Regions from separate parts of the Homo sapiens genome. Here region 1 is reported to be linked to region 2. Evidence: microRNA targets listed by miRTarBase, many of them from high-throughput screens and not tested one by one. Region 2 holds a microRNA gene; the other region holds the end of a gene's coding sequence.

Region 1 (5,380 bases), not on the chromosome of region 2:
GTCATCTTGTAACCACGTTTTTTACTTCAACTATCCAAAAAAAAAAATTGTGGGTCAGACTAAAACATGCAAAGTGTAGAAGTCAGTTACAATATAGGCAGACCCTTTTTTTCTTATGTGCCAGGTGGAAATAGTTTCCATGTGTTATTTTACACATGCTTCCGACGTGAGGAAATACTAGCTGGAAAGCAACTTTAATTTCCAGAGAAATGCATGTAAATAAGAAACTACTTATCTATCATCCAGTTTTCCCAATTGGGTGAAGGGATTTGGGGCAAGAGCACAGGGCATGAAGAGAGTAAACAGTGGGGAGGTTGTGGGAGAGTTGAAGTGGGAAGTGGCTCCTGTGGACCAAAGACATGGCTGGCAGGACAGAGAATCTATGAAGACACAGATGGGGTAAGCCCAGAAAAGCATCCCAAGGCACACACATACCTTGTTTTTTGTAAATCTCCTTTATCTTTTATTACCAAGGTAAATTATAATCTCAGATTTGACTTTGTGGTCACTATTTTGATTAAGAAAACAAAAATAGCATTCACTCCTTAAGAACTTACACGTCTGTGACTAATGCCTACAGTCCTTGTTTTTTACGCCTAGACACTCCAGGCCAAATCACAAATGACGGCCCAGAACAGCAAGGCTAGTTCAAAAGGAGCATAAAGGACTACTTGAGGATGGAGCTCACTCTCTTCAGCTTCCGGCCCTCAACAGTGGCATCTGTAAAGGACCTCCCAGATAAGACTGTCTGGCTTCAGAGAGCGGATCAGCTGTTTAGCCCGTGGGGCAGTCCTTTGAGGCCTGGTAACCATTCCAGGTGATGTGGGTAGTGAGACCAAGTTCAGACCACTTAGAAAAATATAATTGCAAAGTCCCATTTCCTCTGTACCATTGTCACCCCACTCAACTTTGTATAAAGCCCACCCCCCATCATGTTGTTTTTTTAGTTTCATGTGTACGTCCCTTCAGAGAGGAAATTTTTTGCACAATGGAATCAGCTTGGCACCTTAGATACCTGTCTCCTATGGCTTGGAATTCTGAGTAAGAACTTGGAAGTTCCAAAAACCATTTTAGGAGCACCTGATTAACTTTCTGAATGATCCACCAGTAGGATCAGCACCCTGGAAACAAAGTACCTTATGAGATGGGATGGATATACTCCCCAGTAAGATCTTTCTGGATATAATGAAGCTTCCTGGAGAAACAGACTGGCAATCAGAAAGATTTGGCTGCTTCCGACACCTCCATCTTGGGCCTGCAGAGGCTGCAGCAATCTGTGAGGCAGCCGCAATCTGCGAGGCAGCCACTCTTCTAGCACATATGGCTTTCATTAGCCACCATTTTGCTAGGAAGCATAATTAAGGGTTTAAGCCTTAACCATGTTTGTGTTGGGTGTGTGTGTTTCTGGCCAGTTTGTCTTTCACAAATAAGACTATTAGTCATAGGGATTGTGAAAGTCTGATATAATCCCTGTGCTACCCAGCAACAAGTATTACATTAGGATATTTATGCTTGGTGTTTTCAGTATTAATAATATGAAATAATAGATAGACTGCCATGCAGCTGACCAAGGGCTTTCTTCCCCTGGGGAGTGGTTAGAAGGCCAAAGGTATTTCAGCCTGTAGGTGATAAAATTAGATTTCTTTACTTGCTGTGGTTAGACAGCAGTCAGTTAAAACAAGTAAAACTCCACTGTCCTGTCTGGGATCACCTAAATGAGGAATGTCACCAGCACTTCACAGCAAGAATATGCATTCTACAATGCTTTCTAAATTTGTGCTCCATCAGAGAAGCCCCACCATGTCCCACTAATGAAGCCCAGTTCTTTGGGAATGATGAATCCCTACTGTGCACATACAGCAATCATGGATCCTGCCTATCGAGGTGATTCACAATACACTTTCCCATTTCAAAAATGACGGGTATTTTAATTAGTCCACATTTCAGGTGTTAAATGTGGGAAAGGGATTAGCTAAACTTGCTCAATTCTGTTTTAGCTGAATGAGTCATAGGTACTGCTGGGCTGTCCTACAGTTCCTTCTGGCTTTCCCTCCGAGCAGGGTGGGAATGAGCAGTGACCTGGTCAAGGGACCCGGGCCACTTGATAGACCTCTCCTCCCACTCTTCTGCTAGCAGCTCAGAGAAGTCAAGGATGTTTTGTTGTTCTCATCATTTAGGGTGCTTGGCTGTTGGGTTCAGTGATCCTTACATCTAGCCCCAGCTAGTGGTGTTCTGGTAAATCGTTAACCACCAACTCTTTGAGCCTCCCGGGGTAATGAAAGTTACACCTCTAGTTAGCATGTTTATGAAATAGATCCCTTCTGCACGCGAAGACCTGCATGTAGGGCAGTATGGTGGAAATGGTCCTGAATACTGTTGACGGTCCACCTAGAAGGAACCCGCCCAGACCAAGTCTTAGCAGTTGGGTTCTTACTGACCACCTTCTTCCCTGGCTCTCCTCAGTGGAGGGAATGGAAGGCTGTGCCAGCTGTTTCAGAGCTTTCTCCTCTCTGCTCCCTTCTCTATAGATGCAGATGCCTTGGCTCTACCTGCCACTAATGATCTCATTGGGTATGACTTTAGATTTTTTTTTTTTTTTTTTTTTTTCTTTTGAGACAGTCTTGCTGTCACCCAGGCTGGAGTGCAGTGGCACGATCTTGTCACTGCAACGTCTGCCTCCTGGGTTCAAGCGATTCTCCTGCCGCAGTCTCTGGAGTAGCTGGGATTAAAGGCATGCACCACCACGCCTGGCTAATTTTTGTATTTTTGTAGAGATGGGGTTTCACCATGTTGGCCAGGCTGGTCTTGAACTCCCGACCTCAGGTGATCTGCCTGCCTCAGCCTCCCAAAGTGCTGGGATTACAGACATGCGCCACCATGCCTGGCCACTTTAGGCATTCTCTAAAAACCCAACTACAGTGATGCTAGATGTGTCCTGGGTCTTACACACAATTCTGCTACAATAGAGAGGTGGTGGCCACTGACACTTAGGGCCTTGCACCTGTGTCATGTCTAATTCTAAAATCATCCCAAAACGAGCCACATCAGTGCTGCCCAGTTTTTCTGTAATGCCAAATCTAGGCTAAAGATTTCCCACTCACCACCAGCACACACTAGCAGGTAGTAGTTGGACCAATGTGACTTGAGAGCGGACTGGTGCTTCACCTAATGCCAACTGAAACTTCAGCTCGCTGGCTCCACCCAGTGGTGGCGAATAAGCACAGCAACCTCATTAACAATGAGACAGATTTCTTGCCTCATTTGATGCTCAATCTTACTTACCTGAGATCAATACATTACATTAGCAGGGCCAAGGGACCGATGATCTCCAGCCTATGGCAATTAGAAGAGACGGAAAGGCAGTATTGATTAATGCTGTGGTGATCCCAGCCCTAATCTTTTAACCCTCAGGAAACCAGACAGACTCAGTGCCTTCATGGCACAACATCTTCATTAGATAAACTGGATTCCTTTCCTCAGGAGACCCAATTTGGTCCTCTAAGTAAAACGGCCATTTCATTTTCTCTCAGGTCAATTTCACTGTCTTTTATTTGACAGCTAGCGCAGTCTTTGGGGAAATTTGTGGGTGATTTGAGTAGTAACAGCAAGGACATCACTGTAATTATGATAGTGCCTTATATTTTTCTAGCACCTCTCCCAAGGACTTATGAAGACTTTTAGATTCTTCATCCCTTCACACAACATTGCTTCAAGGTAGGGCCAAGGCAGAAATTATCATCACTGTTTTACAAGGAAAGACACTCCTGTGCGGTCTCAAAGCAAATGCTTTTAAGAGCTAAAAATTCATTTCCTAGTTCTGTTCACCAAATGATGCCTTCTTTAAACATAAATACAAATTGTAATGTTAGCAGGTGCTATTTACAGAGAGAAACAAAGAGAATTTTACAATAGTCGCCAACACTGCAGCTGCCAAAAAATCCCTAGCTCAGAAATTTAAAGCAGCAATCCCATTTTCCCTACAGAAATGAAAACATATTGAACTTTCTTTTGTATTTAGCAGTAATCCAGCAAAATATAAGCTTTAATATAGCGACTGAGGAGTGGTAGTTTGAGCCATGAGGTACGGGGGAGCCAGAATCCACTTAGTGAGGACAGTGATGACCAGCAGGTGGCAGAAGTAAATTCCAAGCAGCCAAAAAACCAAAAACATTCGGAGAATTTTCCCCCCGTTCCTGAGGGACAGGATGGAGTTTGGACAGGAAGAACTGTAAGAAGCCAAGATCTGCGACAGTCCCAACAAATACAGTCTGGTCACATGGATACAGGAAGGACGATCTGGGGAGGCATACCAACAAGAAACGAAGCCAGGGACCTGAATGCAAAACTAGCCTCAGGTGACATGTTCTCCTGCACTTAGAAGCACTGGCAAAACCATGCCCACATAGAGGGGGCAGACACATGTCTGGGTTTCAGTTTCTGCAGACCTTCATCATTTGTTTTCCTTTTTGTTTTCTCTGTTGCCCAGGCTGGAGTGCAATGGCGCAATCTCGGCTCACTGCAACCTCCGCCTCCCAGCTTCAAGGGATTCTGCCTCAGCCTCCTGTGGAGCTGGGATTACAGGCGTGTGCCACCATGCCTGGATAATTTTTGCATTTTTAGTAGAGATGGGGTTTCACTAAGTTGGCCAGGCTGGTCTCAAACTCCTGACCTGAAGTGATCTGCCCACCTCGGTGTCCCAAAGTGCTGGGATTACAGGCGTGAGCAACCGCGCCCTTGCTTTCCTCTTAATCACTGTAGCTCTACCCCGTGGCTATTCCTAGGTAGGTGCCCCCTCCCCAGCCCAACCCCACCGGTTTCCTTGGAGGAAACCATCCATGGTCGATGGCTGCTGGGCCTTGACTCTCTGCCCAGCGCCTCTACTGCATGGATGGGGTTCCTGCCCTCGAAGCAGACATCTTCTTTTTCTGACTTTCCAAAAGCAGCGGAGAGGCAGGAGGTGCGTCGTGAGGTCTGGGTGCAGGACCTAGGAAGAAGAGGTTACAAGGAACCTGCGCCGGGAGCATGCGGTGCCCTCGGGACAGACCTAGCCCCAGGGCCCGTGGGTGTCCCTTCTTTCCAGTGGACATTCCCACCCTTTTCATACAGCCCATAGATAAATGAAGCAGCAGCAATTTTTATTGAGGGACCTAAACTGAAAATAGGTTTAGAACATAATTTAAAAAAATAAAACAGCAAAAGTAGCAAAAAATATATGACCTTTTTAAAAACATTTTCCTTTTTTTTCTTTTTTGTTTTTAATATATAGCAACTGATGCCTCCCAGCCACCAGGAGCATCTTACCCGATGGGTAAATCTCTGGTAACGACCCTTTTAAAAAGACATGTAAATATATACTCAGATTTATACACTTTGTGTTTTC
Region 2 (5,380 bases):
GAGCAATGATCTTAGTTTGCCAGTGCCAGGTAATTATTGTGTTCTACTTTAGGCTTCGTAGTGCAAATCAGGGATCTGACCTGGATCAGCCTCAGCTCTTTACATAGCTTTATGATCATCATATTTTGTTGTATTGCTCCCAACAAGCACAAGAGAAAAAGGCAGGCTTCCTAGAGACCTCAAGTTGAAAGTTGATTTTGCTGACAACTATCAGGGAGTAAAAGAAAGCCTTTTTCAGGCACTGGAGAACTAACTTTAATGATGATCAAGGTCTTTATGCCTTTATCTTTTAGTTTTTAAGATCATTTCTCTCCCTCCTTTCCCCCCAGTTTTCTCAACATTTATGAGTTAGTTCTGCTGAGAACAACATACTTCAGAACATGTCAGGATAGGGCAGTTTTTTCTTGTTTTTCTTTTTTCTTTTTTTGAGACAGTCTTGCTCTGTTGCCCAGGCTGGAGTACAGTGGCACGATCTCTGCTCACTGCAACCTTTGCCTCTTAGGTTCAAGCGATTCTTGTGCCTCAGCCTCCCAAGTAGCTGTGATTACAGGCATGTGCCACCACATCTGGCTAACTTTTGTATTTCTAGTAGAGACAGGGTTTCACCATGTTAGCCAGGCTGGTCTCAAACTCCTGACCTCAAGTGATTTGCCTGCCTTGGCCTCCCAAAGTGCTGAGATTACAGATGTGAACCACTCCACCCACTCAGGGCAGTTTTTTTTCTGATACCATATCAGGCCTAGGCCTGGGCTGACTCAAATCTTCTCAGGAATAAGAGGTAAGAAGGAATGTTAAACAGCAGTAGTTACCTGGGGTACATGGTTAATTTGATTTAGCAGATTCTTTGGCTAAACCCTAGTAAATTAAAATGTCTGAGCCAGGTCATGGGAATATACATGTTTTTAATACATTCCTTAGGTGATTTTGATGTAGCCAATCTGGGCCAACATTTGGGGACAACTGAGTAGGACCTAATACAGGTTGAATAGCCCTTATCCAAATCTCTTGGGACCAGAAGTGTTTGAGAGTTCAGATTTTTGTGAGGTTTTGAAATATTTGCATTATATACTTATTGGTTCGGGATTCCAAATCCAAAAATCTGAAATCCAAAATGCCCCAGTGTGTGCTTCCTTTGAGTGTTATGTTGTTACCCAAAAAGCTTTTGATTTTGGAGCATTTTAGATTTTGGATTTTCAGATTTGAAATGCTCAATCTATATTAAAGATCAACACAGGCTGAGCACAGTGGCTCATGTCTGTAATCCCAGCACTTTGGGAGGCCGAGGTAAGCAGATCACTTGAGGTCAGGAGTTTGAGACCAGCTTGGCCAACATGGTGAAACCCCGTCTTTACTAAAAATACAAAAATTAGCCAGGCATGGTGGTGGATGCCTGTAATCCTAGCTACTCGGGAGGCTGAGGCAGGAGAATCGCTTGAACCTGGGAGGCAGAGGTTGCAGTGAGCCGAGATCGCACCACTGAATTCCAGCCTGGGCGACAGAGTGAGTCTGTTTTTTTTTTGTTTTTTTTTAAAGTCAACACAAATATTGAAAATAAGCAACTTCAGTGCACAAATAAGCTCAAAATCACTAGTGAGTGATCTATTTTTTGCCAATAAGAAGTACCATTTGTACATGACTTAAAGTGCCTTCCACCAAGAAAATTATTGAAAACTGTTGGGTCACATAACATTCCTACACTTTGGATACAGAGTATTTAGTTTTATACAAAATTAAGACAACAAGAAACCTAGGATGTCCAAACATTCATTTCATTTATTTTACTGCATTTATTTATGCAGTGAAAATTGAAAGATACACCAAATTAAAGATAAAACCCTGTGACAGATAACAGTATATGTAATAACATGAATATTTATTTACACTTGGTAGAGAAAGCAAAGCTAGCTAGCTCTAAACTAGAATGAAAGTCGTTTTGAAATGGGTACGGGGGTATATAAGGGGAATGATTGAGTCACATGTAAAAGCCTTTGTATGCCCAGTGCTAGTGTTTTCCTGAAATCTAGTGAGAATCACAAGGTACCAGAAATAATCAAATAATAAATATTAATACACTGCTGGGATAGAAGTATCTCAGTGTACCAGCATTCACTAAGCTATAAAATCTGTGACAGCAGGAATATTAAATTATGAACAACCTGGTTTATCTGTCTCCTCTTATCTTTTACCTCTCCCTACGCCCAAAATTCTCCTTAGGTTATCCAGACATTTTTACTAAGATGCTTATTTATATGTAAGAGAGATTTCCAGTAGATACAACAAAACACAAGAAATCACCTGTTCTGTTTATTCTTGCTCATGTAGGATAAAGGTCCTGAGACCTCTCAGAATCTTACGAGGTTGGAGAGTTGTTTGGAATGCTGGGTTCTGGTCTTGTCTCTGCTTCCAACCAGCTATGGAATCTTGTGTATTCTTTCAGTCTTAAATCACTCATCTGTTATCTAAAGATGGACTAAATTATTCCTTCCTGCTGTGATATTCTGTGGTTCTCATCAGATAGAAATAACATATTTGAAAATGCTTTGTAAATGTTATGATACTCAGGATTATACTGCACAGAAAAAAAAAAATCCTAAGGCAGCACCAACAAAGGTATTCAACGTAGTGGGTGGTCTTTTACAGCATTACTTTGCCCATATTCATTTTGAAGACCTGAAATGAAGTTGAACTATAAATTGCTCTAAAATTCGTGAAGCAGGGTGAAAAGGTCTTTGCTTTGTTTTACATTTAAATCCAGCTGTCTATTTTCTGCTTATACTAGTGCTTTTTCATGGCAAAAAGACAGAAAAGTTCCCTTCTGCAGTCTCCAGTGTCTTCTGACCTCACAGAAATGTTTTCATGCTTTTACCTAGCAGGACCACCAGAGGCTCTGTCACACTTGCAGTCCCTGGCCCAACACCGAAATCCTTCTGGAATCTGTGCTCTGGGGGCTGTGCCGGGTAGAGAGGGCAGTGGGAGGTAAGAGCTCTTCACCCTTCACCACCTTCTCCACCCAGCATGGCCGGCACACTTTGGTCTACGGCACATCTCCAAGTATAGAGTGGGTTTTGAATGCTGTTATGTCTCACCGTGGGGATGGGAAGGAATACTCTGTTTTGGACTATTTGGAGGTACATGTGAGTGGATTTTATTACCAGAGTAGGAACTGTTTCAAGTTAATGTGTCTTTTATGTTGCTTTTAAGACAACTTTTGTGCCGCTTTTATCCATTCTTCCTTTTATCCACAGAAATACAAATTTCTAATTATAGTATATTTTTTCTATTTTTAAAATTGTGATAAAGCATATATAACAAAATTTGCCATCTTAAGTGTACAGTTCAGTGGCATTAAGTACATTCACACTGTTGCACAGCCATCACCACCATCCATTTCCAGAACTTGTTTTCATCTTCCTGAACTGAAACTCTGTACCTGTTAAACAGTAACTCCCCATGCCCCACCTTCTTTCAGCCCCTGGTAACCAGCATTTTCCTTTGTCTCTATGAATTTGACTATTTTAGATACCTCATATAAGTGGAATCATAGTATTTGTCCTTTTGTGTCAATCATATTGTATTTTTGTCTAAAAAAGGAAAACTATCAGATTTATGTGAAATGTAACGTAATTTACATTTGATTTACTGTTAGTAATGTCTCTTTAATCATGCTATGCTAGGGAAGTACATTATGGTCTCTCCCTCTAAGAATATGAAGAGGAAATTTTACCTTCAACAAACAAGCAAACTTAGTTATATTTTTGTGATTTTATGCTGTTTTCATATTCTATTTTGAGATCTATTTGTCTTAGCTTGGAGGTGGTTTTGTTAAATGTCCACGATTTAGAGACGGCATAATGAAAAAATGACCAAGAATTTGGTTGGGAATGGGAGGAGCTTAGAAGAACAAGAAATTGGCTTTGATTTTATAGTGTATGGTGCTCTGTTGGTAGCTGGACATCATCACAGGCTTTGGATTGAGAAGACCTGTTCTGGAGTTCTAGTTCTGCTACTGCCTAGCGTTGTGATCTTGATGAAGATACTCTTCCTTCCTGGGCTTCAGTTTTTGATCTATAAATTGCTAGTGATGGGGCTGGACTATTTTTAAGTTTGTTCTAACTTTAGCAGTCTTAAGAATTAAGGTTGCATGCCAGAAAATAGGGTTAAATATTTGTTTCTGATCTGGTTACAAAAAAAAAAAAAACTTGATGGCTTAAAGTAAATAAAAATTCAACAGTACGGTGTAAATTTAAAATGAGGCAAAAGAAAGATAATGACTTAATTTTTATTTTAATCTTTCTTATAGCTGTTTTATATAAGAACTTTTCATGAATACAATCAAAATGTCCATGAGATAAAAATAAGCTAATTGTGCAGGAAAAGTACAAATGCACTTTTTCTGCAGCTCTAACATGTAAGGTTTGGGAACAATCGTTGGGCCTGACAAACAGTTGAGCTAGGGTAAGGGTGAATGCCTTTTCTGGAAGCCTATCAAGAGCATCGAGGTGAAGTCCTCTTACCTTTAATCATGGGAGAGCCCATTCTGGACCAAGGGTTTGAGAAAATTATTCTGACTGTGTTCTAAGGTAATAGGTGAATGGGTGCTCAAGGGCCCCTGTTGCATTTCATGTAGACTTGCCAGAAGAGTTTTAGCTTGAAAACATCATAAGATGAATATAGGCAGATCCCAAACTCAGTAAAAAAACAGCTATAGAATGTTGCTCTATCCTCCAAGATGAACACTTTACATAATGTTTGTACAAGGTGGCTTGTGTGAGTTTGTTGATAAACCAGTTAAAAGTTGGGATATCCCCCAGCTATCCCAAAAGAAGAGGACTAAATACAACCATGTTTTAGTCTGCTAGAGACTTGTGTTCTGACCTAAGACCTGTCAGAAGACCTGTCCCACTGGCTCTGCTTCTGTACTAGTACTATAAGGCAGGTTCTGTGTGAACATTAATAACCAAGGATCCTGAGTTAGACTTATAGTTTGGTCAATAACCAATTTATACCTAGATTGAAAGACCAAGGAAAAGTTAATAAAATAATCAACAATCTGGTACTATTTGAGGGAAAGTAGGGCTATCCTATTTGGAGATGGAATAAATGGGATAAATTATGTTTGGGGCCTGAATAGACAAGATCATAGCTTGTATAGTAAGGGTTCTTAACCTGGGGCTTCAGAGCTCCAGCGAGTCTACAGAGAGACTATTTGATATGCTAGTTTTCTTTGTATTTCTCTGAATTTAATTTTACGTGTTTAAAAATATGATGATGAAAAGAGGCACATGGTTTCATCAGATTGCCGGAAGGATCCATGATACAAAACAGATTCAGAACTCCTGTATGTTGAGTTAAAGTGAACAGATTAGTAATGGTTGGAGCA

Evidence for each region. The annotated mature microRNA hsa-miR-197-5p reads CGGGUAGAGAGGGCAGUGGGAGG and lies in region 2 at 2,955-2,977, shown strand. An mRNA with a match to its seed (bases 2 to 7 or 8) in the 3' UTR can be bound and repressed. Matches are read on the target gene's strand: a 7mer-m8 pairs with bases 2 to 8, a 7mer-A1 pairs with bases 2 to 7 and ends in A, and an 8mer does both.
Region 1: the mRNA of LETM2 is a reported target of hsa-miR-197-5p. Seed matches in the 3' UTR shown: 7mer-A1 at 1,476-1,482.

Annotation. Positions count from the first base shown.
Region 1 is chr8:38,407,612-38,412,991 of GRCh38, forward strand. LETM2 (leucine zipper and EF-hand containing transmembrane protein 2) reads left to right here. Exons shown (of 11, transcript NM_001286819.2): 11 at 601-1,916. The coding sequence ends at 663. FGFR1 (fibroblast growth factor receptor 1) reads right to left here. Exons shown (of 18, transcript NM_023110.3): 18 at 3,532-5,380. LOC102723716 (a long non-coding RNA gene) reads right to left here. Exons shown (of 4, transcript NR_188043.1): 1 at 3,283-5,380. Among named protein-coding and RNA genes, the nearest start is that of LETM2, 24 kb to the left of the region's middle. RefSeq lists a silencer at 2,140-2,189 and an enhancer at 4,802-5,380.
Region 2 is chr1:109,595,947-109,601,326 of GRCh38, forward strand. MIR197 (microRNA 197) reads left to right here and starts at 2,947; the gene lies at 2,947-3,021. It overlaps GNAI3 (G protein subunit alpha i3), which reads left to right. Exons shown (of 9, transcript NM_006496.4): 9 at 1-4,249.